Homo sapiens: one gene and its partners. The protein of the gene in region 4 purifies or fractionates together with the protein of the main gene of each other region. This does not show direct contact. Each region holds a gene or a part of one and is shown on either strand. Other genes may lie near its edges. The genes, in order: MBTD1, JAZF1, EPC1, ING5, PCNT, EPC2 and BRD8.

What was found.
Region 1: the proteins of ING5 (region 4) and MBTD1 purify together in Homo sapiens (affinity purification with mass spectrometry; one large-scale study listed by BioGRID and IntAct). This does not show direct contact.
Region 2: the proteins of ING5 (region 4) and JAZF1 purify together in Homo sapiens (affinity purification with mass spectrometry; one large-scale study listed by BioGRID and IntAct). This does not show direct contact.
Region 3: the proteins of ING5 (region 4) and EPC1 purify together in Homo sapiens (affinity purification with mass spectrometry; one large-scale study listed by BioGRID and IntAct). This does not show direct contact.
Region 5: the proteins of ING5 (region 4) and PCNT purify together in Homo sapiens (affinity purification with mass spectrometry; one large-scale study listed by BioGRID and IntAct). This does not show direct contact.
Region 6: the proteins of ING5 (region 4) and EPC2 purify together in Homo sapiens (affinity purification with mass spectrometry; one large-scale study listed by BioGRID and IntAct). This does not show direct contact.
Region 7: the proteins of ING5 (region 4) and BRD8 purify together in Homo sapiens (affinity purification with mass spectrometry; one large-scale study listed by BioGRID and IntAct). This does not show direct contact.

Annotation. Positions count from the first base shown.
Region 1 is NC_000017.11:51,190,196-51,194,440, forward strand, and holds part of MBTD1 (MBT domain-containing protein 1), read right to left. Parts: intron 3,316-4,245; coding exon 3,233-3,315; intron 2,822-3,232; coding exon 2,587-2,821; intron 2,086-2,586; coding exon 2,008-2,085; intron 1-2,007. UniProt on the Homo sapiens protein: Chromatin reader component of the NuA4 histone acetyltransferase complex, a multiprotein complex involved in transcriptional activation of select genes principally by acetylation of nucleosomal histones H4 and H2A.
Region 2 is NC_000007.14:27,829,792-27,832,896, reverse strand, and holds the end of JAZF1 (juxtaposed with another zinc finger protein 1), read left to right. Parts: coding exon 1-97; 3' UTR 98-2,320; downstream 2,321-3,105. UniProt on the Homo sapiens protein: Acts as a transcriptional corepressor of orphan nuclear receptor NR2C2. Inhibits expression of the gluconeogenesis enzyme PCK2 through inhibition of NR2C2 activity.
Region 3 is NC_000010.11:32,280,672-32,284,916, forward strand, and holds part of EPC1 (enhancer of polycomb homolog 1), read right to left. Parts: coding exon 4,027-4,245; coding exon of another isoform or gene 3,914-4,026; exon of another isoform or gene 3,450-3,913; intron 1-3,449. UniProt on the Homo sapiens protein: Component of the NuA4 histone acetyltransferase (HAT) complex, a multiprotein complex involved in transcriptional activation of select genes principally by acetylation of nucleosomal histones H4 and H2A.
Region 4 is NC_000002.12:241,708,337-241,712,581, reverse strand, and holds part of ING5 (inhibitor of growth protein 5), read right to left. Parts: intron 3,367-4,245; coding exon 3,200-3,366; intron 1,206-3,199; coding exon 1,094-1,205; intron 605-1,093; coding exon 511-604; intron 1-510. UniProt on the Homo sapiens protein: Component of the HBO1 complex, which specifically mediates acetylation of histone H3 at 'Lys-14' (H3K14ac) and, to a lower extent, acetylation of histone H4. Component of the MOZ/MORF complex which has a histone H3 acetyltransferase activity.
Region 5 is NC_000021.9:46,428,648-46,432,892, reverse strand, and holds part of PCNT (pericentrin), read right to left. Parts: intron 2,884-4,245; coding exon 2,661-2,883; intron 2,387-2,660; coding exon 2,236-2,386; intron 1,365-2,235; coding exon 678-1,364; intron 1-677. UniProt on the Homo sapiens protein: Integral component of the filamentous matrix of the centrosome involved in the initial establishment of organized microtubule arrays in both mitosis and meiosis. Plays a role, together with DISC1, in the microtubule network formation.
Region 6 is NC_000002.12:148,759,469-148,763,713, reverse strand, and holds part of EPC2 (enhancer of polycomb homolog 2), read right to left. Parts: intron 1,933-4,245; coding exon 1,784-1,932; intron 1,045-1,783; coding exon 912-1,044; intron 1-911. UniProt on the Homo sapiens protein: May play a role in transcription or DNA repair.
Region 7 is NC_000005.10:138,168,270-138,172,514, reverse strand, and holds part of BRD8 (bromodomain-containing protein 8), read left to right. Parts: intron 1-380; coding exon 381-450; intron 451-1,104; coding exon 1,105-1,154; intron 1,155-1,354; coding exon 1,355-1,477; intron 1,478-1,602; coding exon 1,603-1,683; intron 1,684-2,105; coding exon 2,106-2,170; intron 2,171-3,156; coding exon 3,157-3,293; intron 3,294-3,826; coding exon of another isoform or gene 3,827-4,045; intron 4,046-4,245. UniProt on the Homo sapiens protein: May act as a coactivator during transcriptional activation by hormone-activated nuclear receptors (NR). Isoform 2 stimulates transcriptional activation by AR/DHTR, ESR1/NR3A1, RXRA/NR2B1 and THRB/ERBA2.

The DNA of each region.
Region 1 (4,245 bases), on a different chromosome or scaffold from region 4:
TGAGCATATTTGGCAAGTCAGCTGGAAAAATCTGTTTCAGTTTTAATCCTCAAGTATACTTTTACATTTTTTAAATAGCTTGCTTTTTTCTTCCTTTTTTTGTTTTTAGAGATGGGGTCTTGCCATGTTACCCAGGCTGGTCTAAAGCCATCCGCCTTGGCCTCCCAAAGTTGCTGGGATTAATTACAGGCATGAGCCACCGCGTCCAGTCCAATTTAAAAAATATCTTTAAATAAAAATTGGCCAGACTCAGAGGATCACACCTGTAATCCCAGCACTTTGGGAGACCAAGGCAGGCAGATGGATCGCTTGAGCCCAGGAGTTTGAGACCAGCCTGGGTAATATGGTGAGACACCATTTCTATAAAAATATAAAAACGAGTTGGGCATGGTGGTATACTCCTGTAGTCCCAGCTACTCCAGGGGCTGAGGTGGGAGAATTGCTTGTACCCGAGAAGTCGAGGCTGCAGTGAGCCAAGATCATACCACTGCATTCCAGTCTGGGCGACAGACTGAGACTCTGTCTCAAAAAAAAAAAAAAAAAAAAAAAAAAAAAATATATATATATATATATATAACCTTATCTAAGAATGAAATGAAATATGGCCATGTGTGGTGGCTCATGCCTGTAATCCCAGCACTTTGGGAGGCTGAGGTGGGCAGAGTGCTTGAGCCCAAAAGTTTGAGACCAGCCTGGGCAACGTGGCAAGACTCTGTCTCTACAAAAAAATACAAAACTTAGCTGGGTGTGTGGCAACACATGCCTGTGGTCCAAGCTACTCAGGAGGCTGGGGTGGGAGGACTGCTTGAGCCAGGGAAGGTTAAGGCTGTAGTGAGCGGAGATTGTGCCACTGCACTCCATTCCAGCCTGAGCAACAAAGTAAGGCCTTGTCTCAAAAAAGAATGAAACATTCTATGACAAGTTTTATGAAGAGAGAAAGCTATGGCTTTCTATGGTGGGGAAATAAGATAAAAAAAATCAAACATAGTTATCAATATATTTTATATTACTTTGGCTTATGCCAACAATTCACTGTAAGGTAAAATATAGTATAGAAAGAATTTCTTTTTTTTTTTTTTTTTCGAGATGGAGTTTTGCTCTTGTTGCCCAGGCTAGAGTGCAATGGCACGATCTCGGCTCACCTCAACCTCCGCCTCCTGGGTTCAAGCAATTCTCCTGCCTCAGCCTCCCAAGTAGCTGGGATTACAGGCGTGCACCACCACACCCGGCTAATTTTTTAGTATAGAAAGCATTTCTAGAAAAATTTGGTAAAGCTTGTTTGCCATCAACTTGGATTTCTTACCAGTATCACTCTAGAAAGTTTTGCTTTCTAGGAAAAATGGGTTTATTAGGCTTCACATCTACTGTAAGCATCAAGCATCTGCTAATTTTTTTTTTTTTTTTTGAGACAGAGTCTTGCTGTGTTGCCCAGCTGGAATGTAGTGGCGTGATCTTGGCTCACTGCAACCTCTGCCTCCTGGGTTCAAGTGATTCTCTTGCCTCAGCCTCCTGAGTAGCTGGGACTTCAGGCGTGTGCCACCACGCCCGGCAGATTTTTTGTATTTTTGGTGGAGACAGGGTTTCACCGTGTTAGCCAGGATGGTCTCGATCTCCTGACCTTGTGATCTGCCAGCCTCGGCCTCCTAAAGTGCTGGGATTACAGGCGTGAGCCACTGCACCTGGCTGCTAATTTTTCTTTTTAAATAAAGTTTTTAAAAAGGATTAACTTTCAGTAGGTTTTACATATTATTTCAAGAATCATTCACAGACTCTATTCTTTACCACGTATACTTTAAATACTGTGGTAATAATTTCTCCTGTTAGTAAAATATCAGTGTTTCTCATTATTGCAAGGGTTTGCCTTTTATGGCATACTGCACCTTTAAGCATAATACATAATGCACAATCATCAGTTCTCACAAGATATATCATTTTCTGTCCAAGAATACTGTGACTCCAATTAGTTAACAATTAGAAAATGTATGTGAACACCACGTGGTGACCCACTTTTCTTATGTCCTTTGTATTGCTGGGACTTAGCCTTTTTCTTCTGTTTTGATGAAGCTGATTGGTTTTCTCTTGATGCTGAAAAATAAAAAGGGAAAATTGGTACTAGATAATTGTTTACAATTTAGACGATACAGTTGTCTAGATACAACTTATATGAACTATCTTTACCAAGACCATTATACTTAAGTACATGATGCTCTGAAAATAAGGGTACTTGTTCCTACAAAACCATAGCCTCAACATGAGACATTTTCCACTATTTACTCAAAAGCATTTATTACCTACCAATAAACTTTTAGTATGTAATTTTTAACTCACTAAAATAGTAAGTCTAGTTTAATTTGGTGACTGTTGTGTTTCTATAGTCATTATGTAATTGACTATTGGATTCACATTGCCATGGGACACATGGTCTGATTCTGTGATATTGTTGTTGAGTCTTAATGTCTTACCTGGCAACCAATCAGACATAGGTATATTCTTGTCCTGTGAGCTCATAAGATGACTTATGTGAGATAGTCCTCTGGAGAATTGCTGATTTTTACAAAAGGACACCTTTTCTGTATACCAACTTACACTGTGATGCTGGAGGCTGTAGTTGATATCCAGTTAACTGACACCACCCTACAGGATAGAGGTCAGGTGACTCACAGTCTACCCACTGATCATACTCTTCTTCCCATCCATCAAAATGTATCCTCAAGAGACGATGAATAATTCGAGTTACTGTGGCTACACATATTAAACGTGGCTCCATGAGATCTACTGCTTCTAATTTCATTCCTACACGAAATCCGTGATTTGGAACATCCTGACACAGAGAAGAAAACATTAATATTGGTATGAAGAAGAAAGAATGCACAACCCTACTATCACTAAGAAAGCAAAAAACAGAAGCGACTAGCTAAATAACATAATTATAAACCATAAATTCCAAATAATTCTTTAACTATTTAAACATAGTACGAAGGTGAAGTATTTAAAAACTAGTTAGGAAAAATCTTCATTTCTATTTCCTTCAGATTAAAAACGAAACATAGTTTGGAAACAAGTTTTGATTCCTAGGTAAAGAAAATATTTATATTGTTTCATTGCTATATTTGTTTATATTATATCTCCACTAAGAAATTCTAATACAAGGCAAAGACATTTTTATGAACATAAATTGTATTTGTGGGGCATTAATAAGTCCTCACATAATTATGCTGCCATTTAAATTTACCTTATTAAATAGTTTTACTGGTGCTGCAATGGAGCCAGTTTCCCTGAGGTAGTCAAACCATTTAAAAGGAAGTTTTGTGTAACCTAAAAAACACAACTGGTTTAACTAGCAGTTCATTTAAAATTAGCATAATATTAAAATGCAGACAAAAAGTAACAGTACAAAAAATCTTAAGAGCATAGGTTATATGATCAACTTTATTTTTTTTGAGACAGGGTCTTGCTCTGTCGCCCAGGCTGGAGTGCAGTAGTGCCCTCAAAGGCTTACTGCAGCCTCAACCTCCAGGGCTCAAGTGATCCTCCTGCCTTAGCCTCTCTAGTAGCTGGGACTACAGGCACATGCCACTGTGACAGGCTAATTTTTTGTTGTTTTTAGTAGAGACAGGGTCTCCCTATGTTGCCCGGGTTGTTCTCAAACTCCTGGTCTCAAGCAATCCTCCTACCTGAGTCTCCCAAAGTGCTGGGATTATTGGCGTGAGCCACTGCACCTGGCCTATATGATTTATACTGCTGAGTGCAATAATTCCTCCATGTTACACAGATTTCCCTCCCCTCTCTAGAAACACTGGTGTGCCTACTTAGTCTAACGCAAAAGTGGCTCTCTTTTTCTGTTTACTACAATGGTACATTTTTGCTCTTTCAATCCTAGGCTTTAGAAGAGTCTAGCACCTAATACTATGGACTGATATTTTTCTTTCTTGCAAGGAAAGAAAACTGGCTGAGCAAATACTATTTTTTATAGACCTCTGTTATAGCTTTCCTCCTTTCTTAGAGGAACAACTTAATGCTCAAGTATTAAAATTGGAAAAATCACTGGTTAAACCACGAGTAAAACAGCCATCCTTTTAAAAGTCCACATAGGGCTGGGTGCAGTGGCTCACGCCTATAATCCCAGCATGCTGGGAGGCCAAGGTGGGTGGATCACTTGAGGCCAGGAGTTCGTGATGAGCCTGGCCTACATGGCGAAACCCTGTCTCTACTAAAAATAGAAAAATCAGCTGGGCGTGGTGGTGC
Region 2 (3,105 bases), on a different chromosome or scaffold from region 4:
TGGGAAGAGTTACAAGACAGCTCAGGGCCTGCGGCACCACACAATCAATTTCCATCCCCCGGTGTCGGCTGAGATTATCAGGAAGATGCAGCAATAACATGCTGGTCATAACTGTGCCAAGAAATCCTCACCAGCAGTTGCTGATTTTGAAAACAGCCACCTTTTTTCAGGGGAAGCATTCAGCAACCCTTTAAAGAAAAAGAATTAAATGCATGCTTTAAATTTTTTCTGTAATTTTGGAATGATGTATCTTTGTAGAGTTAATGATTTTGTACATTTGCACATGTAATCATCATACCCATTTTCATTACTTTGATATAAGGTGCTAAACAAAAAAAGCTCTAGGTTCTTCAGCACATTTCCCCCAAAACAAAATAAAATTGAGGGCATGTTGCATATTGTTGAATTGTATTGCGGTGGTATCAACCTGGGGGGAGGAGGGGCTGGCACTGAGATTTTTTTTTCAAGATTGTAATGTGATTGAAGTTTTCAACACATCAACTCACATATGTTCAAAACCAAAATAATACCTTCATTATCAAACTGGTTACCATGCCTTACATAATGGAGTTAGTATTTGTGAGTAGAAAGACTTTAGGTAATGGAAATATAAATAAGAAAGAATGTTTAACATAATATGCTAAAAATATTTTCATATTTAAATAACATACGTAAAGGTGTGCTTTCTGTGTTTTATATTATCTTGCAAATCCTTTTGCCCTTTAAAAAGCTGAAAATCTTGCCATCTGACTTACTAGTCATTTTAGTGTTATAAATGGCATTTTGTACAAAATAGTCTATTCAGTTCGTTCATTCATTTAACACACATTGATTGAGTGCCTGCTGGGTACAAGGGATTCAATTTATGCCTATTGATATCTGCGGACCAAGATACCCATTTAGTGAAATACTTTTTTCCCTGAAATCTGTTAGAAAAGACTTTGAAATACTTCAGTGCAAAGTGTGTGTGTGTGAAGTTTAGTTATATCTTCATCTTCAGATGAAGTTTTAAAGCACTTTGTAGTTCTCTATTGCCAACAATTTAATGTTTATGTGTTGCCAATTCTTGCAACCACTGCCCTACCAAACCTGTGGGTTGCAAATCAGAACTAAAATTCTAAGCACGTTTCAAAGATGAACACTTTTGTTAAGACCCCTATTGCCTCTTCTTCATGCTCATTTTTTACTTTTTTTAAAAGGTACTTTTCTCATCACATTGTAGAGAGGTCTGCATTCTCATTGGAAATGTCTGTTTAGCTTTATAAAACAAACACTTTGCTGAAATAGGAAAATGAGCCTTATTGACAATTAAGTGCTTCTTGCAGCAGGTGGTCAAAGAAAAGCATGACTAATACGACCTATTAGAGTAATCTACATCTGGACCATTCCTTAAGTTTTTCCTCACCGACAGTACCATCATGCCTTGAGTGTTCTTTTCTCCCAAGTGCTATTCCTTAAACACGAGAGTTTACCAGTTGCCTAATAATGCAATAAAAAATGCTTTGAGATAGCTAACTGCCCATAAAACAAACTCAAATTGCTTATAAAGTTTCTTCCCATGTTCCCATTTGATGAAAAGTCTTACATCACATATAACTGGGAAGCAGGGGTCCCTCCTCAATTTTCAGACATTTTGAAAGGATGACAGTTCTGTTTGTTAGATGAGTAAACCTCTATATTCATAAGTTCTAAAATCCTTCATTATGAGGGATTCAAAGTATTTATAAAAACACTGCCCTCTAAAAATTTCCTCAGATCTGAAGTATGGTCTTGGTCCTGAATATACAGTGTTATCCTATGTTTAAAAGGGTGATCCAGACATGAGACGCAACTAGTTGGTGCATAAGAAGGCCCCACTTGGCTATTTCATATCTACCTACAATTGACCAAAAAAAATTTTTTAGGCCAGCAATTATTATTTAGCTTCGCTCTTTCTAGTGCAAGAAACTGCAGGCTGGATCAGTAGTTCAACAGCTAAACAGTCATAAAATAGTCATTGTGCATGTTAAATTTCTTTCAATGCTTTCAAAGATAAATTCCAATTTCTATTTACTTATTCATTGTGACAGTATTACTAAACAGGTAAGGATGGGAATATTTTGTTATACTGTGTATAGTGAATGTATTGTACTGTGTCTGTGAAAACTGTGCTTTAAATTATATTTTCATATGTTTTGTTGGGGACAGAGCACATTAAGTCTGAAAGCAACAGAGGTTTGTTTTAGAACTGAAGGCAATTTAATCAAAATTCCTGTCAAGAAAAGCTGCTTATAAATGTAAATGAAATCACATTTAAAATAAACTGCCTCTGACCCAAAAATAAATATGGCTCTTTATTTTCCTTAGTGTCCATTATGAAAACCAGTATCAAGTTTACCATGGAAATTAATATATCCATTCAGTTCCTCATTCTAAGGCTGTTCAGTTGATGCATGTAGACTTTATTCCCTTACATTTTTGCTTAGATTAGATTAGGCTGTATTACTTTTCTGTCAATAACAAATTAAGCTTGGACTTACTTACTTAAACTATTTTAAAATAAGTTCTAGGCTAGTAAGATGAACAGTGTCTACTACTATAATAAATATTCCAAGGATACTTTTGGATTAACATGGTCCATAATTATTAACTCCAACAAAAATGCTCCCATTGTTGAACATATTTTACCTAAGTATATAACCTATCTGGAAGCTGAAAGTCTCCAAAGCTATTGCTTCCTAGGACTGCTGTGTCCTAACAGCTGGCATATGAATGCCTCATACTGGTTTGCCCTAGACTCAAAAAACTTTTTAAAGGATTCTAACAATATACAAACTCTGCTTCCACAAACAAATACAAGTGACGACATGATATGCTGCAGTTCACATATAGCAACTCAAAATGCCACCAAGTCTAAATATTAGGTTAACATCTTCAATAGCTAGTTTGCTCAGAACAAATGTAAACTATTTTGATGATAACTACAAAAGCGGCAAAATCAAAAGTTGGTGCTTTAAATTATTCACACGCACATTATAAAAGGGAAAGGGAATACAATTCAGAAGTATTTTAAAGGCCCAAACCAAAAAAAGATGTTCAAGATGCTAGATTAATGAAAAACTTTCA
Region 3 (4,245 bases), on a different chromosome or scaffold from region 4:
AGGTTGCAGTGAGCTGAGATCATGCCACTGCACTCCAGCCTGGGAGACAGAGCAAGACTCTGTCTCAAAAACATGACAAACATAAAAACAATGAATAATCAGAAATGGCTATACTATAACTCGCATATTTGGCTTAAGTAGCAGGAAAGCTTATCAGCTGACTTGTATTTTACAAAATAGTTAACTTCCAAACTCATAAACAACTTGGGCATCTCTAATATGAACGTCTGAAATCTGAAATGCTCCAAGAACCAAAACTTTTTCTGCATTGACCTGATACTACAAGTGGAAAATTCTACACCTGGCCTCATGTGATGGGGCCATAGTCAAAATGCAGTCAATACTTTGTTTCATGCATAATTTTTATTATTTATTTATTTTGAGATGGAGTCTTGCCCTGTCACCCAGGCTGGAGTGCAGTGGCGTGATGTTGGCTCACTGCAACGTCTGCCTCCTGGGTTCAAGTGGTTTTCCTGCCTCAGCCTCCCGAGTAGCAGGAATTACAGGCACCCACCACCACGTCTGGCTAATTTTTGTATTTTTAATAGAAACGTGTTTTGCCATGTTGGCCAGGCTGGTCTTGAACTCCTGATCTGAGGTGATCTCAGGCAATCTGCCTGCCTCGGCCTCCCAAAGTGCTGGGATTACAGGCATGACCCACTGTGCCTGGCCTGACTCTTCTGTTTTAATTAGCCCAACACTGCCAGTTTTTCTGCTGGCATCAGACTACATCAGAGTTTCTTTGGTTAAGTGCCAGAGGAAGTAGTCTGGTTTGTATGTGGGGGCCATGCTGTATGAAAATTAAAAATTATCTTTAAAATCACAATTACTACTGAATGAGGTAAGATGCTTAACCTATGAATAAAGTGGCAATGCGGGCACTCACGCCGTAAGAGGACCAACACATTCAACTTCCCCTACTCCAGGCTCACTCTGGAGAATATATTCTTTCAGTAAATTGTATTTAGAATTCTGTATAACATTTGAGCTGCTACATTTTCTCTTTTTTTTTTTTGAGATGGAGTCTCACTCTGTCGCCCAGGCTGGAATGCAATGGCACAATCTCGGCTCACTGCAACCTCTGACTCCCAGGTTCAAGCCATTCTCCCTGCCTCAGCTTCCTGAGTAGCTGGGATTACAGGCGCCTGCCATCATGCCCAGCTAATTTTTGTATTTTTTAGTAGAGACCAGGTTTCGCCATATTAGCCAGGCTAGTGTGGAACTCCTGACCTCAGGTGATCTGCCCGCCTCGGCCTCCCAAAGTACTGGGATTACAGGCATGAGCCACCACACTTGGCCTAAATTTTGTTTTTTTTTTCTTCAGGGGCCTGGAGTTGGATTAAGTGAAATGCACTTATGATATGGCTGCATTGTAATATACTTTATAAAGTATGCAGAGAAAAGCTTTAGGTCTCTGGAATATTCACAAATATAAATGAACAGTGTTACCCTACAGTAGTCTGTAGGTATCTATCCTCTAAGTATTAGAAGATCTAGCAAAATTTAAGGAGAAATTGAAAATAATTAAGACAACAGGAAAAAAAATAGATAAACTCATTTTTAAAAAGTAGTATTGAGGCTGGGTGCAGTGGCTCACCCCTGTAACCCTAGCACTTTGGGAGGCCAAGGCAGGAGGATCACTTGAGGCCAGGAGTTCAAGACTAGCCTGGGCAACATAGACCCTATCTCTTACAAAAAATTAGCCAGTCATGGTGGCATACGCCTGCAGTCCTAGCTACCCAGGAGGCTGAGGTTGGGGGATCACTGAGCCTGGGAAGTTGAGGCTGCAGTGAGCCATGACTGTGCCACTATACTCCAGTCTGGGTGACAGAGAAAGATCCTGTCTTAAATAAATAAATAAATAGTTGTATCGCATATATGGAGGAAAGAAATGATAAAGAAGAAAAATTACAAGGTTACTAATGATTTCTTTTCAGCTAAGCTTTTGGTAATGCTCATCTTTTAATGTTCTTTGGGCAAACACAAATCAAACAATTTTTACAACTGTTATTAATATGCCTAAAGCAGTATAGCAAAACATTTTTCATAAAAAAAGAGCATTATAAAATCCTTAAATATTTAGGATAGTTATACACTTCAACTTCTCTATTTAAGGGGTGGAGAAGATGGAGATTGATGGAACATGCCTATTTTCTGAGAAGTCTTAAAGAATTTTTACAGCTTAGAAAGCTTAATTATCAGGGTAACCTATGACAGGTTTATACTGTTAAAACCTCTATACTAACACTATAAGTAAGTCTTTATTGAAAAGTTCTTTATTTTGATTCTTAAGACTATAAAAGTAGAGAGAAACTGGCTTTTGGTGATAAAGACAGTAACATTAATGGGATTATAAATAAGCTGTTAGTCCCTAAAATAGCTTTATCTTCCAGCTGATTTCTGAATTGTGATTATTTTTCTCATGAGCTGAAAGACTTCCATTTCATAGAAGTACAGCTGACCCTTGAATAACATGGGTTTGAACTGCCTGGGTCTACTTATTTGTAAATTATCTTCTGCCTCTGTCACCTCTCAGATGACAAGACCAACCCCTCCTCCCCCTCAATGTGAAGATGACAAGGATAAAGACCTTTATGATGATCCACTTACACTTAATGATTAGTAAATGTATTTTCTCTCCTTTATGAATTTCTTTTTTTTTTGAAACAGGGTTTTGCTTTGCTGTGAAGCCTGGAATGCAGTGGCATGATCTTGGCTCACTGCAGCCTTGACCTTCTGGGCTCCTACCACCTCAGTCTCCTGAGTAGCTGAGACTACAGGCGCTCACCACCACACCCAGTGAATTTCTGCATTTTTTGTAGAGATGAGGTTTCACCATGTTGCCCAGGCTGGTCCTGAACTCCTGGGCTCAAGCAATCTGCCCACTTTAGCCTCCCAAAGTGCTGGGATTACAGGCATGAGCCACCATGCCTGGCTCTATAAATTTCTTAATAACATGTTCTTTTTCCTAGCTTATTTTAAGAATGAAGTACAGAATACATATAACATACAAAACATGTATGTTTGGACTGTTTATGTTAATGGACTAATGGACTGTTTATGTTATTGGTAATTCTGGTCAGGAGCAGACTATTAGTCAAGTTTTTGGGGAGTCAAAAGTTATACATGAATTTTGGACTGCAATTGGGGGGTGCCCCTAACCCTCATGTTGTTCAGGGGTCAACTGTACTTTTTTTTAACCACCAAGTAAATTAGTTTACGGAACATTTTCTGGAGGTCTTTAAGAATCAGAGCAAATGTTCATATTTATGAAGCAACTTAACTATAACCCTACAGGGTGAATTAGGGGAATGATAAATATCTTCATAGTCCTCAGATTACCTTTACAAAAATCAGTAGTAACATAATTCAATGGTGAATTTCTACAATATATAGGCTTCAAATAACACAAACTTATGCTTTAAAACAGACAGCTAAGATTATAGGAATATTTTAAATAAACAGCATTTATTTTAGACACATTTCAAATAGAAGCCACAATAATCAAATAGATATTATCTGAAAACGTTTCAAAAATATTAACCCTTTAAATGTTCTTCTCTGAAAAATTAGTTTATCTTTAACAAATTATTCTGAATTATTGTGTCAACATATAAGGTTATGCATATATATTCACTTGCTGGTCTCTATGTTAAAGCAAACTAGGTAAAAACTAGAGAAATATCTGAACATAAAATGGTTAACAATTTACGGCCCATTTTCTTCTCATATTATTGAAAAATATGATAAATCTTGTGGTTCACGGACTATATCCAGGAAACAAATGTCACATATTAAATAGAAATAAACCATCTTTGTATGCAGGTATGTTTAAATGAAGACACACACATACAAACTCCTATAGCAACAGGATTCAAATAAATACTTAGACCAAGATTTTTTTTTTAACTGTTTAAGAGAAAAGGACTTTAAGCCATAAATGTAACAGACCACATAGTCGAACAAATGGGAAATGGTTGGACCTGACATTTCTATAGAAACGTACATCATTAACAGTCAACATACCAAAGTGTGCTGAACCACTGCTACTTTTACTTTGCGTAGAGGTACTGCATGTCTGGGTCCCAGGTTGTGCTGTTCCTGTTCGGTTTATACTCCTATATAATTTTCTACAGGAGAGTTCATCATTGTCACTGTCATGTAGGGATGGTGTCCGAGGCCTAAAATGCCGCCATCTACATGATTTGATATTGACTAGTATCTGACTGAGGTCTTTAGAGAAAG
Region 4 (4,245 bases):
CTTTAAATAAAGTATCTCAAAAAACTTCAAGTTAAATGACATGTCTATTTAATAAATGTGGCCACATAATTAACAATGAATATATGCACACTATATGTTGACACATAAAATAACTGACAGATATACAGAAATCTAGCTACTTAAAGAGTGGTCTACATTGGCCTCTGTCAACAACACGTTGCTCACCATCCTCCTGTCCCTAGTGGGGCAGCACACACTGTGGCTAAGAGGACAGGCACTGGAGTCAGACTCCAGGTGCAGCCCAGCCGCACCACAGCAGCCCTAAAGCCTGGGCAGGTCCCTGCGACACTGAAAATGCCCCTGACAACGGCACCCCCTCAAAGGCTGCGGTGAGGACAGGCTGACGACAGGCGCGCAGCGTAAGAATCAGAATACCACCCGGCACACGGGGTGCACTTCACTCGGGTCAGCTTCCATCAGTGTTCCTACATCCGGGATACAGGCTATGGGTATTCGTTCTTTTGGGAAAAAGAGGGGAAAGCCTCTTACCCTCCTTTGTGCTTCTTTTTCTTTGGTGTGTCTTCCTCTGATGTCCTCCTGCCTCGGCCCCGGGACCCTCTTTTTTCTTTCTGACCCCGGCCTTCTGAAAAATAATCAAGATGCAAATTATTTTTATAGAATTCTCTAAAGCAAGGCAAGTTTTGTGTTTTGTTTTTAAAAAGGGGTCTCGCTCTGTCTCCCAGGCTGGCTGGAGTGCAGCGGAGCAATCATAGCTCACCGCAGCCTTGACCTCCCGGGCTCAAGCAATCCACCCACCTCAGCCTCCCGAGTAGCTGGGACCACAGGTGTGCACCACCACACCTGGCTAATTTTTAAATTTTTTGTTGAGATGAGGTCTCGCTATGTTGCCCAGGTTGGTCTCAAACTCCTAGCCTCAAGTGATCCTCCTGCCTCAGCCTCCCAAAGTGCTGGGGTTACAGGCGTAAGCCACCACACCCAGCCTGCAAGACAAGGTTTACCCAAATATGATACTTACCCTAGTGATCATACTTTAATGATTTACCGTGACAAAACTCTTCAAAACTCCATAGTTAACAGTAATAAAATAAAGAAAAAAAATTAACAGACTTGCTTTTTAACCCTCGCCCTCCGGAGCTTTCAAAATCACTGCCCTCCATCTTGTCCTTCAGATCTGCTTCAAAGCGCGCCAGGTCTGCATCAAGCCTTCGAATGTGTTTATCCACCTACAAAAGGATACCCAAAGTCTTATTTTAAAGTAAAACCAAAACACCTCAGAATCACGAATGTACAAAAGTATCCACCAGGAAACACCTTCTTGCCCTTTAATTGAGTCTCCAATGAACAAACCTCTGCTAAAACAAGGCCCACTATTTCAAAGTCCATGCAAGGGTCTTGTGCTTTTTCTGCATATTTTGACATTGCAATGGAATAAATCCCATTTAGGGAAAAGACATGAGTGTGGGCAATAATGAGAAGCAGAGTTGTGAAATGCAGTGAACAAGGCCTGGGATATCTGACGCTGAACCCTACTTTAAAATATGGCTACCTGGAGGCCAGGTGCAGCGGCTCACACCTGTAATCCCAGCACTTTGGGAGGTCGAGGCAGTCTGATCACCTGAGGTCAGGAGTTCAAAACCAGCCTGACCAACATGGTAAAATCCCATCTCTAAAATAAATACAAAAATTAGGGCAGGCGCGGTGGCTCACGCCTGTAGTCCCAGCACTCTGGGAGACCGAGGCAGGTGGATCATTTGAGGTCAGGAATTCAAGACCAGCCTGGCCAACATGGCAAAACCCCATCTCTATTAAAAATACAGGCCAGGCACGGTGGCTCATACCTGTAATCCCAGCACTTTGGGAGGCTGAGGCAGGTCAATCACCTGAGGTCGGGAGTTCAGGACCAGCCTGACCAACATGGAGCAACCCCATCTCTACCAAAAATACAAAATTAGCCGGGCTTGGTGGCGCATGCCTGTAATCCCAGCTACTCAGGAGGCTGAAGCCGGAGAATCGCTTGAACCCAGGAGGCAGAGGTTGCAGTGAGCCAAGATCGTGGCATTGCACTCCAGCCTGAGCAACAAGAGCGAAGCTCTGTCTCAAAAAAAAAAACCAAAAACCAAAAACAAAAATTAGCCTGTTGGTAGTGGTGCACACCTGTAATCCCAGCTACTTAGGAGGCTGAGGCAGGAGAATCGCTTGAGCCTGGGAAGTGGAGGTTGCACTGAACTGCAGCCATGCCACTGCACCCTAGTCTGGGCGACACAGTGAGGCCCTGTCTCAAAAACTAAATAAATAATACAAAAATAAAAAAATAAAACTACAAAAATTAGCCAGGCTTCGTGGTGGGTGACTGTAATCCTAGCTACTCAGGAGGCTGAGGCAGGAGAATTGCTTGAACCTGCGAGGCACAGGTTGCAGTGAGCCGAGATAGCACCATTGCACTCCAGCCTGGGCAACAAGAGCAAAAGTCCATCTCAAAAATAATAATAATAATAAAGTATGGCTACTGCATGCCTGTAATCTCAGCTACTCGGGAGACTGAGGCAGGAGAATCGCTTAAACCCAGGAGGTGGAGGTTGCAGTGAGCCGTGATCACACCACTGCACTCCAGCCTGGGCGACAGAGCAAGACTCTGTCTCAAAAATAAATAAATAAATAAAATAAATAAATAAAATAAAATATGGCCACCTGGAGGTCGGGCACGGTGGCTCATGCCTGTAATCTCAGTATTTTGGGAGGCTGAGGCGAGTGGATCACTTGAAGTCAGGAGTTCGAGACCAGCATGGCCAACAGGGTGAAACCCCGTCTCTTCTAAAAATATAAAAATTAGCTGGGTGTGGTGCTGCATGCCTGTAATCACAGCTACTAGGGAGGCTAAGGCACAAGAATCACTTGAGCCTAGGAGGCGGAGGTTGCACTGAGCTGAAATCACACCACTGTACTCCACCGTGGACGACAAAGTGAGACTGTCTCAAAAAAAACCCAAATGGTTCCTCCGAGCAGATACACAAACAAAAAGGGCCCAGAAAAAAAAAAAAAAAAAACAGGGATGGTCCTACATGAAGTGTATTCCGTCTGCACTTCCTCCAGCAGCGTCAGCTACCAAAGCCAGCCTTCCACTTGGCTATGCCCATTTCCGGGCAGTTTTTACATTTTGTTGCATGAGAGGCAGGAGTAGAGGTCAGAGGAAGAGCCATGGCCCCCGCCCCGCCCTCACCATCTCGTAGGTCTGCATGGCCAGCTGCACTTTGTCGTCACTGTATTCCTTGCACTTGCTGTAGGCGTTCTGGATCTTCTGCAGGCGCTCCACGCGCTGGTCTGGAGACAGCGTCTTCACCGTGGAGATGTACTCTGCAGCCAGGATGTCAATCTCTGCTTTCTTATCTGATGGAGAAATGGGGGAAAAGCTAGCCCTGCACAAGACACCATGATGTGCTCACCAGACTGGCAACAACTAAAGTCAGCCAACGCCAAGTTGTGGCAAAGATGTAGGCTGACATGAACTCACGCTGTGCTGGTGGGAGCGCAAGTGGGCAGAACCGTTCTGCACAAACAGTCTGGGATCGTGTGAATGTGCAGACTTTACGGCAACGTGCCCAGGACAGTCCCAGCTCTGAATGTTACACAGCAAGTGGTCACAGTGCCTTCTTCGACTCTCAAACATCCTGTATGAATAACTTGTAGCCACCTTTCCTATGACCTGGCATACTACTCTTTTTTCCCTTTTCTTTTTTTCCGGTAGAGCAGTCAAGAAAGAACACACTACTCTTAAATACCCTAAACAAACCTTATGTCACCTAAAGAAATCCACACGGGAAACATTCATAAGAGCAGAAAACAGAAAACAACCCCAATGTCCAATCCTCAGTAAAATGGAGAAATAAGCTGTGGTCCCTTCAGACAACAGAGTGCTACTCAGCAACAAAAAGAGCAAACTACAGCCACACACAGCAACACGGATGATTCCCAGAGAAGGTGACACGGAGCAAAAAGAGCAAGAAACAAAAGAAAACATACTGGATGATTCCATTAATATGAAGAGCAGAAACAGACACAACTCTTAACCCTTCAGTTTAGAGGGGTAAGAAAACTAGGCCAGGCGTGGTGGCTCACGCCTGTAATCCCAGCACTTTTGGAGGCCGAGGCGGGCAGATCACGAGGTCAGGAGATCGAGACCATCCTGGCTAACTTGATGAAACCCCGTCTCTACTAAAAATACAAAAAATTAGCCGGGCGTGGTGGCGGGTGCCTATAGTCCCAGCT
Region 5 (4,245 bases), on a different chromosome or scaffold from region 4:
TCCCAGCAGTCTGAGAGGCCCAGGCGGGCGGATCACCTGAGGTCAGAAGTTTGAGACCAGCCTGGCCAACATGGAAAACCCTGTCTCTACTAATCCAAAAATTAGCCAGGCGTGGTGGCATGTGCCTGCAGTCCCAGCTACGTGGGAGGCTGAGGCAGAAGAATTGCTTGAACCCAGGAGGCGGCGACTGCAGTGAGCTGAGATCACATCACTGCACTCCAGCCTGGGTGACAGAGCCAGACCCTATCTCAAAAAAATCCTAATTAAATGAAGAGACACATTCTGTAATCGTGGATCAAAAGACCTCACACTGTCCAGATGTCAATACTACCCAGAGCAATCAGCACATTTAATGCCATCCCTAAGAAAATCCCAGTGGCAGGTTCTGCAGAAATACAAACACCAATCCTCAAATTCCTGTGGAATAGCAAGAAGCCCCACAGAGCTGAAACTATCTTGAAGAGGAAGAACGAAGTTGGAGAACTCACACTTCCTGATTTCAATACTTTCTAGAAAGCTACAGTAACAGCAGTGTGGTGCCAGCGTCAGGGCACACAGACCAGAGCAGACCAGGTCAGAGGGCCAGACATAAATCTCGCGTCCCCCACGTGAACCATCCTAACTCCAATTGCTTATCGTTTTTAGGTGTGGACGCTCCGCCGGCAGGCGGCTCTCACCAGCTTCTCCTTGTCTCTCTGCCACTTCCTCCACTGCTCCGCAGCCGCTGGGCTCTGCCTGGCCTCCGCGCTCCTCCTCGCAGCCTTGCGTCCTTCTTGCTCTTTCAACCGTGGGTGTGACTGCTCTAATTCTGCCTGCAACCACGCTGGTTTCTCCCTCTCTCTCTCCAGAGAGCATCTCAGCTCTCGTTTTTGGGTGTGCAGGGCTTCCACCGTCGACTTCAGTGTGGCACTTACCTCCTTCTCTCTCCTGAGCGCCTCACAGTGCTTCTGAGCCTCAGCCTCAAGCTGCTGCTGAGAATGCAGGGCTTGCTGCTGCACCTTTTCAAGCATCGCTTGCAAGTCCACCACCCGGGACTTCTCCTCCTTCAGCTTCTGCAGCAGAGCGTGATGGGCCTGTGTGTCCTGGTGCACGCAAGCCTCCTGTGTCCTCTGGCTCAGCTGCTCGGTCAGGAGCCGCTCGTGCCGCAAGGCCTCTGACAGCTCCAGGGTGCGGCTCTTCTCAGCCGCAAGGTCCTTCTGGAGCTCAGAGAGCTGGCTCCGCTCCTGAGCCAGCAAGGCCTCGCAGCGTGAGTGCTCGATACGCAGCTCCTTCTGCAGGTTGTCCTTGGCCGTCTGCTCGTGTTTCAGTGCCACGCAGAGTCGACTGCTCTGAGCACGCTGTGTCTCCAAAGACGCCCGCAGCTCCTAGACAGCAAACACATACGATGGGAGACACTGAATCAAGAGGAAAAGTGTCTACATGGTTTTCCTGTCCACATTTGTTTATATACTTTAGCCCAGCAATTCTACCTTTTGAAATGCACCCTATTAGCCACATGTAGGGACAACATTTTTTTGTTAGTTCATCAAGTAACAAAAAACCCAGACTGCGGAGATGACATACTTTTTTCGGAAATGGTGTTGAGTCCTGGGTTCAGAGATGTTCCCAGTCTGTCCCTCTCCAGAAAATGATTCAGAGATGTCCCCTGCCCGCCCCCTCTCCAGAAAATCACTCCACCAGAGGCTCCTGCCCCCTCTTCAGAAAATCACTCCACCAGAGGCTCCTGCCCCCTCTTCAGAAAATCACTCCACCAGAGGCTCAGAGATACACACCCAGCTTGCTAGGAACCACCACTTCCATGCTGTTGAAAGCCATAACCCATGGAACTGGCACAGACTTGCTCAGAAGCCACAGCAGGCCTGCTGGGCCTCCGCCATGCAAAGCAGAGGCCCCACCACCAGCCTGCCTTGTGCACAGACCTCTGAGGCTGTGCTCTGTCTGGATGCCAGCGAGGAGGCTGTGTCCATCTCCACAGCAAGTGCTCAGGGACGGGGGGGGGCTCCGAGCAGGGGTATCGTGCCACCACGGGTCATCGCACTCTTCGCCCTGTGGTGGCTGCCACTACACCAAGGTGCAATTTTACCTGCAAACACAGCCCTATCCTGCTACGTCACACTGCTGTCAACTGGGTGCACTGCCATGAAGAACAGGAAAAGAAGGATGAAAGAGGAGCATGGCTTCAGGCTTCCAGTGCACACAGCCCATGCCGGCTGCCTTGCCCTGACACCCTGTTACCTCCAGGGCCTTGGCACTCTGGCTCTCCCTCTGCAGGTGCCGCAGCTGCTCCTCCTCCAGCTGGCTCTGCAGGGCACGCCCCTTCCCCTGCTCACTCTCCAGCTCCTGAAGCGCGGCCTTCAGCTCGTTCTCCTTACTGCTCAGCATGGATCTGCGTGGAGACATCGCAGAACAATCTGACCACGTGGGCCAGAGTGTGTTCCCGGGGGCTGGGAGCTCCAGGAGGGGAGGCAGAGCCCTGCCAGGTCCCACACGTGTGCTTCACCCCCCACCACAGGATTATCAACCCAGGGACAGCAGGGCGCGGTGCCCCTGGGGCTGCCCAACTGCGGCCCACCAGAGGTTCTGTCTCCCTTCATCACCAAGAAAACATGGCACAACGGGGGGACTCCCGCCAGTGTCCCAGGAAGGGGGATCAGGCGCACCTCAGCTGGAGGACCTCCTGCTGCACCTCGCAGAGGGACCGGGACAGCTGTTCGCTCTTCTGCCTGCTCTCACAGAGGTCGGACTTCAAATCTCGCACTACAGTCTGCTCCGCCGCCAGGAGCTTCTGCACGCTGTTTGCCTTCTCTTGCTCTTCACTCAGCGTCTTCTGCAAGTCACCAGCAATGCACTTCTCCTGCTCTACTTTATAAGCCAGCAGTTCAACTGAGAAAGACAAAAGAACAGTAACAGGCCCCCATGAGCTCCTCGTGCTGCACAAGTGACACCAGGTTAGAGACAGACTCGTGGGGGCGTGAGGTGTATGTGCTTCGGGAAGAAAGGAGGTTCTGTGGACTAGAAGCTTTCACTGCGGGTGGAACCAGGATGCTCAATTCTGCCCTCTGGGCCCATTTCCTTCCAGGGCCCACCCACCTGGCCGGGAGACACAGAGTCCAGGAGTGATATAGCCCTGGGGCCATCCTAAAAATGCCACCTCACCCCCACTCACACCCTAAACTGCCTCCAACAGAGGGAACTCCAGGCCCAGGTGGCTTTACTGGAAAATTCTCCCAAAACTTAAGGAAGAAATAACCCCAATTCTAGACAACGGAGGGCGGAGGGGCTACTTCCCAAATACTTCCCGCACCCCGTGGGGCTGGCGCTACCCAGCACCAAGACCAAAAAGGCACAACAGAAAACAGACCAGTGCCCCTCACGAGCACTCAGACAGCACCGGCCCACCACCCCCATGCCCCTCACGAGCGATCGCACAGTGCCGGCCCCCCTGTGCCCCTCACGAGCACGTGCACAGCGCCAGCCCCCCCATGCCCCTCACGAGCGCTCGCACAGCGCCGGCACCCCCTGCCCGTGCCCCTCACGAGCACGTGCACAGCGCCAGCCCCCCCATGCCTCTCACGAGCGCTCGCACAGCGCCGGCACCCCCCGCCCATGCCCCTGACAAGCGCTTGCACAGCGCCAGCCCCACCCATGCCCCTCACGAGCATGTGCACAGCGCCGGCCCCCAGCCCCAGAGAGCACAAAGGGCATGGGCGCCGGGACAAGGGCCGTGGGCTGAACTGCAAGGCCGTTCCCCTTGACGGAATCCAAAACTAGGAACAGAGGGCACTTGCCCAAGCTGACCAAGGGCGCCTGACCCCACATGCGATGGTACGAGACCAGCTCCTGCCCCCAAAACTAAGAGCAGGGAATGGCATCTGCCCACACAGCTGACGGCACAGCACGTGAGAGAACACGGGCAAGAAACAAAAAATCGTTACTTACCCACAGATGACCTGAGCATCTACATAAAAACTCCCGAAGAAGCTAAATTAAATGTAGAAACCTACGAGACATTCCTGAACTCTAGCATGAGCTCCCAAGAATCTGCCAGCACTCAGAGCCCAACCCAGGCCCCTCTTGCCCACATCAGGCCCAAGAGTGAGGCCTCCGTGCCAGCCCCACCCAGCGCTGCCTGTCTCCAGGGTCCTTTCTGCTCAGTCCTATCAGCTGACAACCATGGCAACACTCAGGGGCTTGACTAGATGATGCCCTGTCACCACCCTCTGCTCCCAAGGCCACACAGGTGAG
Region 6 (4,245 bases), about 93 Mb from region 4:
ATGGTGGGCTAGACGCCTGTGATTAATAAGAAAGAACTTTAGTGTTTTAATTGACATGAGCTGAATGAAGGAGTCTTCCTGCTCCACACTCTTTCTTGACCTTTAAGAATGAACCCATGAAAAATGAGAACTGTGTACATTTTTAAAAGATGAATTTTCCACAAACACCCTAGGTCATTTAAAAAATTTTGCTACAGAGTAAAGCTCTATTGTCTAGAAGCTTCAGTCAATATCTGTTTCCTATTTAAATCTATGCTCCTTAAAATTAAAGGCTTTATTAGTTTTCATATTTCCCAATTAAATACTTTAATTAATGTACCAAGTGAGGACCAAATAAATATAGTTATCTAGTCCAAGTGACTAAAATAACCACTGAGTCTGGCTCTTTCATTAGGAAGAAACTGTGACCCAGAAATTACAGGACTTTCTCAAAGTCACTCAAGGTAGATAACAATTGATAAATGCTGGCTCTGGAAATGATGATGACAATAATAATTTTCAATAGTCTCAATGAAGAAAGCTTTGAGGTGTTGATTCCTTCCATTACAATGCAAGGTTTGCTAAGGCTAGTGATAATAACTAGACTTTAATTACCTTTATTCCCTAGGGAGGCAGATAGCATATTGAACATGACGGACTATTAGACCTGAACTGAAACCTTGAATCTGCCACTTACTAGCTATTATATAGAAGTCACACAGATGCAACAACTATCTCTAAGGGTTGTTATGAGGATTAATTGGTCAGTATGTATATAAATACTCCTAGCAAAGTGCTTGGCTCATGGTAAGAACTAAAGTCACGTTAATTACTTTTTCTTTACTCAAACCATATTAAGACAACTGCAGAAATCAATAACTCCTCTGATCAACATTACCATCCATACATGCTTCTTCCCAGACAATATTCACCTTAGTTTTACATTCTTGAACTTTGTGATGATTTCCATTATGAAGAGTTGCTGGAGTGGCATATAACTCTTTTTCTGATCTACTGATTTTTACTTCATTAAGGATTTCACCACCATAGTCTCCCAAATGGTATCTTGAAAAGGTAACAAAAATATAAGAAAACATTGCATAGTTTGACAATAAAGAAGGAAAATAAGTGATACCTCAATTAATTGGAAGTCACCTAGTCAAAAAGGGCTAACAATCAAATTACTTTTAAAAGATAAAATTTGCAGGAATAAAGAAACAGGGATTTGGTAAAAACAAAACAAACCAAAAAACTAAAAAAGGCCTAAGGTACACAGCAAACAAATTTCTTACATATATTATATAATCAAGCACTAGGAAATGTTTAGAATGCTTACTCCAGGAATCATACAAAATTCTGTTTTTGTTTAGTCTATTTAATTTTGTAGGAAAATATACTATATTAGAGCACACATTTCTAAAAGGAGTTGAAACGAAAAATGTCTACCTACTCAGAAAATAAAATCAATACTTATTTCCCTCAGATTTAATAGAAAATTTAATACAGAGAAGTAAACAATATGATCACTAGAGTTCTTTACTAAATAAAATTCAATGATTCTGCCAAAACAAAATTAAGTATAGGATCTACAGTATACACAAAACTCTCCCAAAATCTGCAATCCAAATTGATAACTTAATCTATAAAAACTAGTAACCACAAATCTTTAAAAAATATAAATTCTTACAGAATCAATATCAACTGTCATAAAGCTTAACCTGTTCCCCCCTAAAAATCTTTTGGTTCATTTTGCCCATCATTTGGTAAAGTTGTCATTTTACTGTTGTAACAGGAGCAATGTTACCTTTTCTCCACAACTTCTAAGGTTAAGTGCAATAATTCTCGTTTTGTTTTCTCTCTTCTCTTAATCATTTCCAAAATTGTTATGGCTCTACTAAATTCTCGTCTCAGTTTCAACATCTTTTCATAAGAGGCTTCATCATTCTTACGATTCTATTAAAAATAATAATTTTAGAAGAATAAACAACACAGTTATCTACATTTCCGGCTTTATTCAATAAACTCTTATCAGACCTGAATTTATCCTATAAAAGTAAAATGTTAAAAAAAATCTGAACAGCAACCTATGTAAGATAACCTATAACTATTTAACTCTGAAAATATAAGTACAAGCAAGTATCTCTCGACACTCAGAAAAAAAATGTTGCCAGCTGTTGAAAAGGTAGAATGGCATAAAGAGATAATTTCAATGTAAACAAACAAAAAATGTCCACCTGAAACAAAATCTGTTATCAGAAAATGTAGTCCATTCAGCGTGTAGGAAAGTATTTTCCAATGACAGAGAGGAACAGTTCTGTCCAGATCAAGGTAACAGTCAAAATGAGTCCCCTCATCCATTCATCCATCCATCTCCAGCTCTGTAACTGGGGGCTGGATGGTTTGATACACTGTACTATTATGTGAACATGAACAATGACCAGTAAAGCTTCACTTCAGAAACTCAGAAAACTGAAAGTAGGATAACAACCATTTCAAGAAATCGGACTGTCAATTTTCAATGTAAATGTAACACTCCACTGCTGAGTAGAAAAGAGATTTAGCAAAAATACTGAATTTCAGAACACTGTTTATTAGCTTTTCAACTAATTATTATACAAAGTGAAAGCCCTGCTACATAACTAGAAAAGGCTCAGTTGTAATTAGTAGCATCTATTTGCATATAAAATTATTACTAATATAAACTATTTTGTTAAACATCCACAGATTCCTCACTTTACTATTAGGCATGGAACTATTTGTTTAAAAATAGACCACTACCACCTCTCCAATCTATGCATCCAGAGTGAACTGTACTTAAGCAATCATTCATGCCTTGATTTAATAATCTGAAATGACATTAGAAAGAACCTAAGGAATACCAAAGGTTTCATATTGGAGGATTATAAAAGAGAAAAATAACAATTGAGAAAAAGTCAAAGTTATACTCTTTTTCTTTTGTGTATAGTTTCCTGCATTTGAAAAATAATAGTCATATATTAAAAATAACCTACACTAAGTCCCATTATGGTATTCCACATCGAATATTAAAAATAAGTCATCCTTTTGTGTAATTTTAAAAAATTCATCTTTTTCTTCTTCATTACTATGACAAAAGGTAAATCTAAAGCATATGTTTAAGCATTTTTTTAAACAGGCAGCAATAATACCTTTCAATTAAAAAAATTAATATTTTCGACAGCAACTATTAAAGTGCCTACACTGTGCAGGGTATTGCACATGTCCCTTACCCTCAAAAGGCTTAGAATCTAGTAAGGATGACAGACAGAAAACAGATATACAGAATTGTAAGGCAGATAATAATATGAGGTTACATGCCAGCTGGCAGCTGAATAATATTCAAAAGTGCACCAGAACCTTTTAGATGGCTCCCCTGTTCAGTAAGTGTTCCTCTTGGAGGTTCTACCCTGTCTTATTCATATCTTGTTTTGCTTTTGTGTGTGTGTGTTTGTGTGTATGTGAGACAGAGTCTCACTCTGTTGCCCAGGCTGGAGTGCAGTGGTGTGATCTCAGCTCACTGCAACCTCTGCCTCCCAGGTTCAAGCGATTCTCCTGCCTCAGCCTCCCTCCTCCCTCAGCCTCAGTAGCTGGGATTACACGAATCCACCATCACACCCAGCTATTTTTTGTATTTTTAGAAGAGATGGGATTTCACCATGTTGAGCAGGCTGGTCTCAAACTCCTGACCTCAAATGATCTGCCCACCTTGGCCTCCCAAAGTCCTGGGATTACAGGCATGAGCCACTGCCCCCAGCCTCTGTTCTCTTTATGCCCAAATAATTATCGTTCCTAACTTTCCTTTCCCCAGTCTTGTCCTTTTTTTAAAAAACAAATAAAAAACAAAAACAAAACCTTTTTGTTTTGAAATAGTTTCAGTCTTACAAGAAAGTTACAAAAACAGTATAAAGAATTCTCATATATCTTCATCCAGATTCTCTAAAGGTTAATGTTTTACATTTGCTTTATCTCTCTGTATGTGTATACATATATGTATGTATGAATATAAACACACACATCTATAAATTATCAGCAGTACTATTTTTGAAAAATTTCAAGAGAAGTTGAAGATATAAAATGCCCCTTTATCCCTATATACTTTAATATATATTTTCAAAAAAAAATGATATTCACATAGAACCACAGTACAATTATTAAAGTCTGGAAATTAACATTAATATAATCCTATTACTTAATTTCTTTATACATATAAACTTTATTCATATTTCAACAATTGTCCCACTAATGTCC
Region 7 (4,245 bases), on a different chromosome or scaffold from region 4:
AGTCTCACTCTGTCCCCAGGCTGGAGTGCGGTGGTGAGATCTCGGCCCACTGTGACCTCCGCCTCCTGTGTTCAAGAGATTCTCCTGCCTCAGCCTCCCGAGTAGCTGGGACTACAGGTGCATGCCACCATGCCCAACTAATTTTTGTATTTTTAGTAGAGACGGGGTTTCACCATGTTGGCCAGGTTGGTATTGATCTCCTGACCTTGTGATCCACCCGTCTTGGCCTCCCAAAGTGCTGGGATTACAGGCGTGAGCCACCGCGCCTGGCCATTCGCATCTTTTTTATTCCAAAGTTTGAACTCCAAGCCTTGCACTCTCAGCATACCTCTCCTATTGTTTTCTGCTTGGTGTGTAATAAAGCTTTCCTCATTTTGTAGGGTATCAGTTAGCAGAGCAATCAAGCCCTTTGCAGAACCTGGCCGCCCTCCAGACTGGTTCTCTCAAAAAGTAAGTTCCCAAGCAAGGGCTCTTTTAGAGCAGTCTTTGGGTTGTAAAGTAGGTTCTCTACCAGGCCCTGACTTTTAGTTACAAAGCTTTTATACCATGATGTGGGAAAATAGTTGAGAATACCTTTTTCTTTTTCCTACTGTTTGCTAATCCATCCATGTATGATCATATTAGACCTTTCTTATTGGTGTTGCATAACAGTTAAGAGCCCAAGCTTGGGAATTAGATCTGGGTTCATTATTACTCCATCTAAAAACTTTGGGCCATGATCCTCTGTTTTTTCATTTGTAAAATAGAGATAAAAGAGTTGCTTCAGGATTGTTGTGAAGCTAATTGAAGTAATACATGTAAAACATTTAACACAGTGCCTTGCATGTAGTAACTACTTGGTAGATATTAGCTATAAATATTGGCAGTTAGGTTGCCTTTCCGCAAATGCACAAACTCCAGTCCATAAGACTGTCTTTTTCTGTGTCTTGTTTTGATTATTTTGAACTGATTTGATTATAAAGTTACTTGCCCTCCTAGTAAACCACTCCCGTCTTACATATAGTTCTCTTCTCTAAATCTTACTCTAATCTCTTGAAACTTTGAAAGGTCATTTCTTTCCAGCCTTGCTCATCACATTTTCACTTTTTTTTTTTTTTTTAATAGCATTGTGCTTCCCAGTACTCGGAGCTTTTAGAGACCACTGAGACACCAAAGTGAGTACAAAGCCAGGTACTTCAGCCATATTTCTTTAGTGGAGAGTATTTACTGAGGAATTCTGGTTTATACTTAGTTATGATACTGGATGATTAAAAAATAGCAGAAGTTATCTATGATTAAGTGGTAAAAGCAAGTAGGAGAGGGGATAAATGTTATGTTATTTGAATATGAATTTTTTTTTTTCAATTTTCCACAGACGGAAACGAGGTGAAAAGGGAGAAGTGGTGGAAACTGTTGAAGATGTTATTGTTCGGAAATTGACTGCTGAGCGAGTTGAAGAACTAAAGAAAGTGATAAAGGAAACCCAGGAGAGATATAGGTACTTATCAGAGAGAATGCCAAAAAATTGAGAAAGACATAAGGGACTGTCTTCTGGTACTGGTCAGAACTTTTAAAATAGCAGATTAAAAAACCCAGTCTACCTACCTCTCTTTCTTCCTATAGACGGCTAAAGAGAGATGCAGAACTAATTCAAGCTGGACACATGGACAGCAGACTGGATGAGCTTTGCAATGACATTGCAACGTGGGTTATATTATATTGTTCTTCTGTGCTTCTTTCTTTTTACCCTCTTTTCCCCTCAAGTAATCTGGCTTATTTCCTCCAATTGCCGTCCCTTTAGACTTGAGACAGATTCTGGAAGGGGAAAGCTGCAAAGTGGTTTGGTGGCTGGGAGGGGGGAGTGAGTCCTAGAAGGTAATATAATGGGACATTTCAGTATGAAAACATAACTTAGTTCTAACTTAAGAGTGGCTATAGTTTGCCTGGGTGAAGAACTGGGAGTTAGGCAGTATACCCCAATTCACTGTTTTGCTGGTTAGAATTCCTGTTTAGGCCTTTCTTCCAGAAAGTGCTGGCCTGGCAAAAAAAATTACTTTGTAAGGGTTCTGTGAACTCTGGGGAGGAGCCAGAGCTGTCTAGCATCTAACCCTTAATTCCCTGTTTAGGAAAAAGAAATTGGAAGAAGAGGAGGCTGAAGTAAAGAGGAAGGCTACAGATGCTGCATACCAGGGTAAGCTGAACCTAGTATGCCTCTTTAGCAATTGATTGCACAGTACTGCATGCTAATGACAGTTGGACTGTTTTGTAACATAGAATACATTGATTTAAATTTACTTGCAGTTTTCTCTTCTACCAGAATAAAAACATCCCTTAATGTCTTAAGAAGAAACTCCTAGAACATGCGTTGTGCTCAGATCTCACTAGACCTTAAATTAACTTCAGGACACAAAGGCTTGATGAGATATTGAACATAATGTTTTAGAAGTCAAGGGCCTGTGAAAAGATTGAGAATAGCTCAGTCATTAGATGAGGAGAAATTTAAGCATTTACAACTCTAGGAATACATGCTGTGCGCCAGTGAGGTCTTTCCCTGTTTTTGTTTTTTGTTTTTCCCCCAGGCGGAGTTTTGCTCTTGCTGCACAGGCTGGAGTGCAGTGGCGCGATCTTGGGTCACTGCAACCTCCGCCTCGCGGGTTCAAGTGATTCTCCTGCCTCAGCCTCCCGAGTAGCTGGCATTACAGGCGGCTGCCACCACACCTAGCTAATTTTTGTATTTTTAGTAGAGATGGGGTTTCGCAGGCTGGTCTCAAACTCCTGACCTCAGGTGATCCACCTGCCTTGGCCTCCCAAAGTGCTGGGATTACAGCCGTGAGCCACTGCACCTGGCCTTCCTGTTCTTAAAAGCAGAATATTAGTAAGTTGCTAAAGAGAATATTAAAGGATGTTTAAACTACTTTCCCACTCCAAGGACCTTTGGGATAATTAAGTAGTTTGAGATTGTTAAAGGAGTTTCTTAGTGTGAGAATTGCCCTTAGGAAAAATTAGGCTAAAAAGTTATCCATCTCTAGAAGTGTTAAAGCTTTCTAATCCAAACTTATTATGCTGCTTTAGTAATGCAACATACCTATTTGTCCTTTATTGTATAATAGCAGACTAGTGTCAAGTTTCATTTATTTAATCTTGAAGATTTGGACATTGTTCTCTTTTATGTTCTAGCTCGTCAAGCAGTAAAAACACCCCCCCGGAGGTTACCCACTGTGATGGTTCGCTCTCCTATAGATTCTGCCTCCCCAGGAGGTGATTATCCACTTGGGGACTTGACTCCAACCACTATGGAAGAGGCTACCTCTGGGGTGAGTATATTTCCATCTGTGGGAATTGATCAGTGAAGGGGCAATAAGCCGGCAGAGCTGAGCGATGAGGAAACCACTTTTGGCCTAGAGGCAACTTCCTCTCTTGATCTGAATGCTAAAGACTTAATTTACCATGTTCTGTGCTCTGAGATAAGAACGGACCTAAAAGCATTGAGGCTTTTGACCTTTTTGAGAGATAGGTAAAAAACTATTTTAAGAAATTGTTTCATACTAGTCTTATGAAATTCCTGCTGAAATAAGGGACAAAATCCTTGTAAATGTAATATTGGTAGTGGGTAAGGAGTTCATAAAAGGCAGGTTGGGTGGGATGGTTGAGTCACTGTGGGTTTGAGTGGATGAAAGAGAAGATTGTGGGGAAGAAAAGTATGGCTAAGAGCAGGAGGGATAGAGGGTTTCTGGGCAATTCCACTCAGGACTAATAAAATAATAGTTAGACACACTAACCCATACAGATTAGTAGGGAACCTTCCATAGTTTGAGAAGTCAGATAAAGGTTCTCTGTTGTCTCTTAGGTAACCCCCGGGACTTTGCCGAGTACCCCAGTCACCTCGTTTCCTGGGATTCCTGACACCCTTCCTCCAGGCTCTGCACCCTTAGAAGCCCCCATGACCCCAGTAACAGATGATTCACCCCAGAAAAAGATGCTTGGACAGAAAGCAACTCCACCCCCCTCCCCTCTGCTGTCAGAGCTCTTGAAGAAGGGCAGCCTCCTGCCTACTAGCCCCAGACTGGTATGGAGACTTCTGTGGGTGTTTGAGAGCTGTGGTGATTTAGTACTTGGAAGGGAGTGCCTGGGACCTAAAATGTGACATGGGGAATAAAAGTTCAAAAGAGGAAAAGATCTCCTAATTAAATGTTAATTTTTTAAAAATACAGTAAGTTGATAGTACCCATGGGTCCTGAGGTATCTGAATCACAATTATTTTGGTTC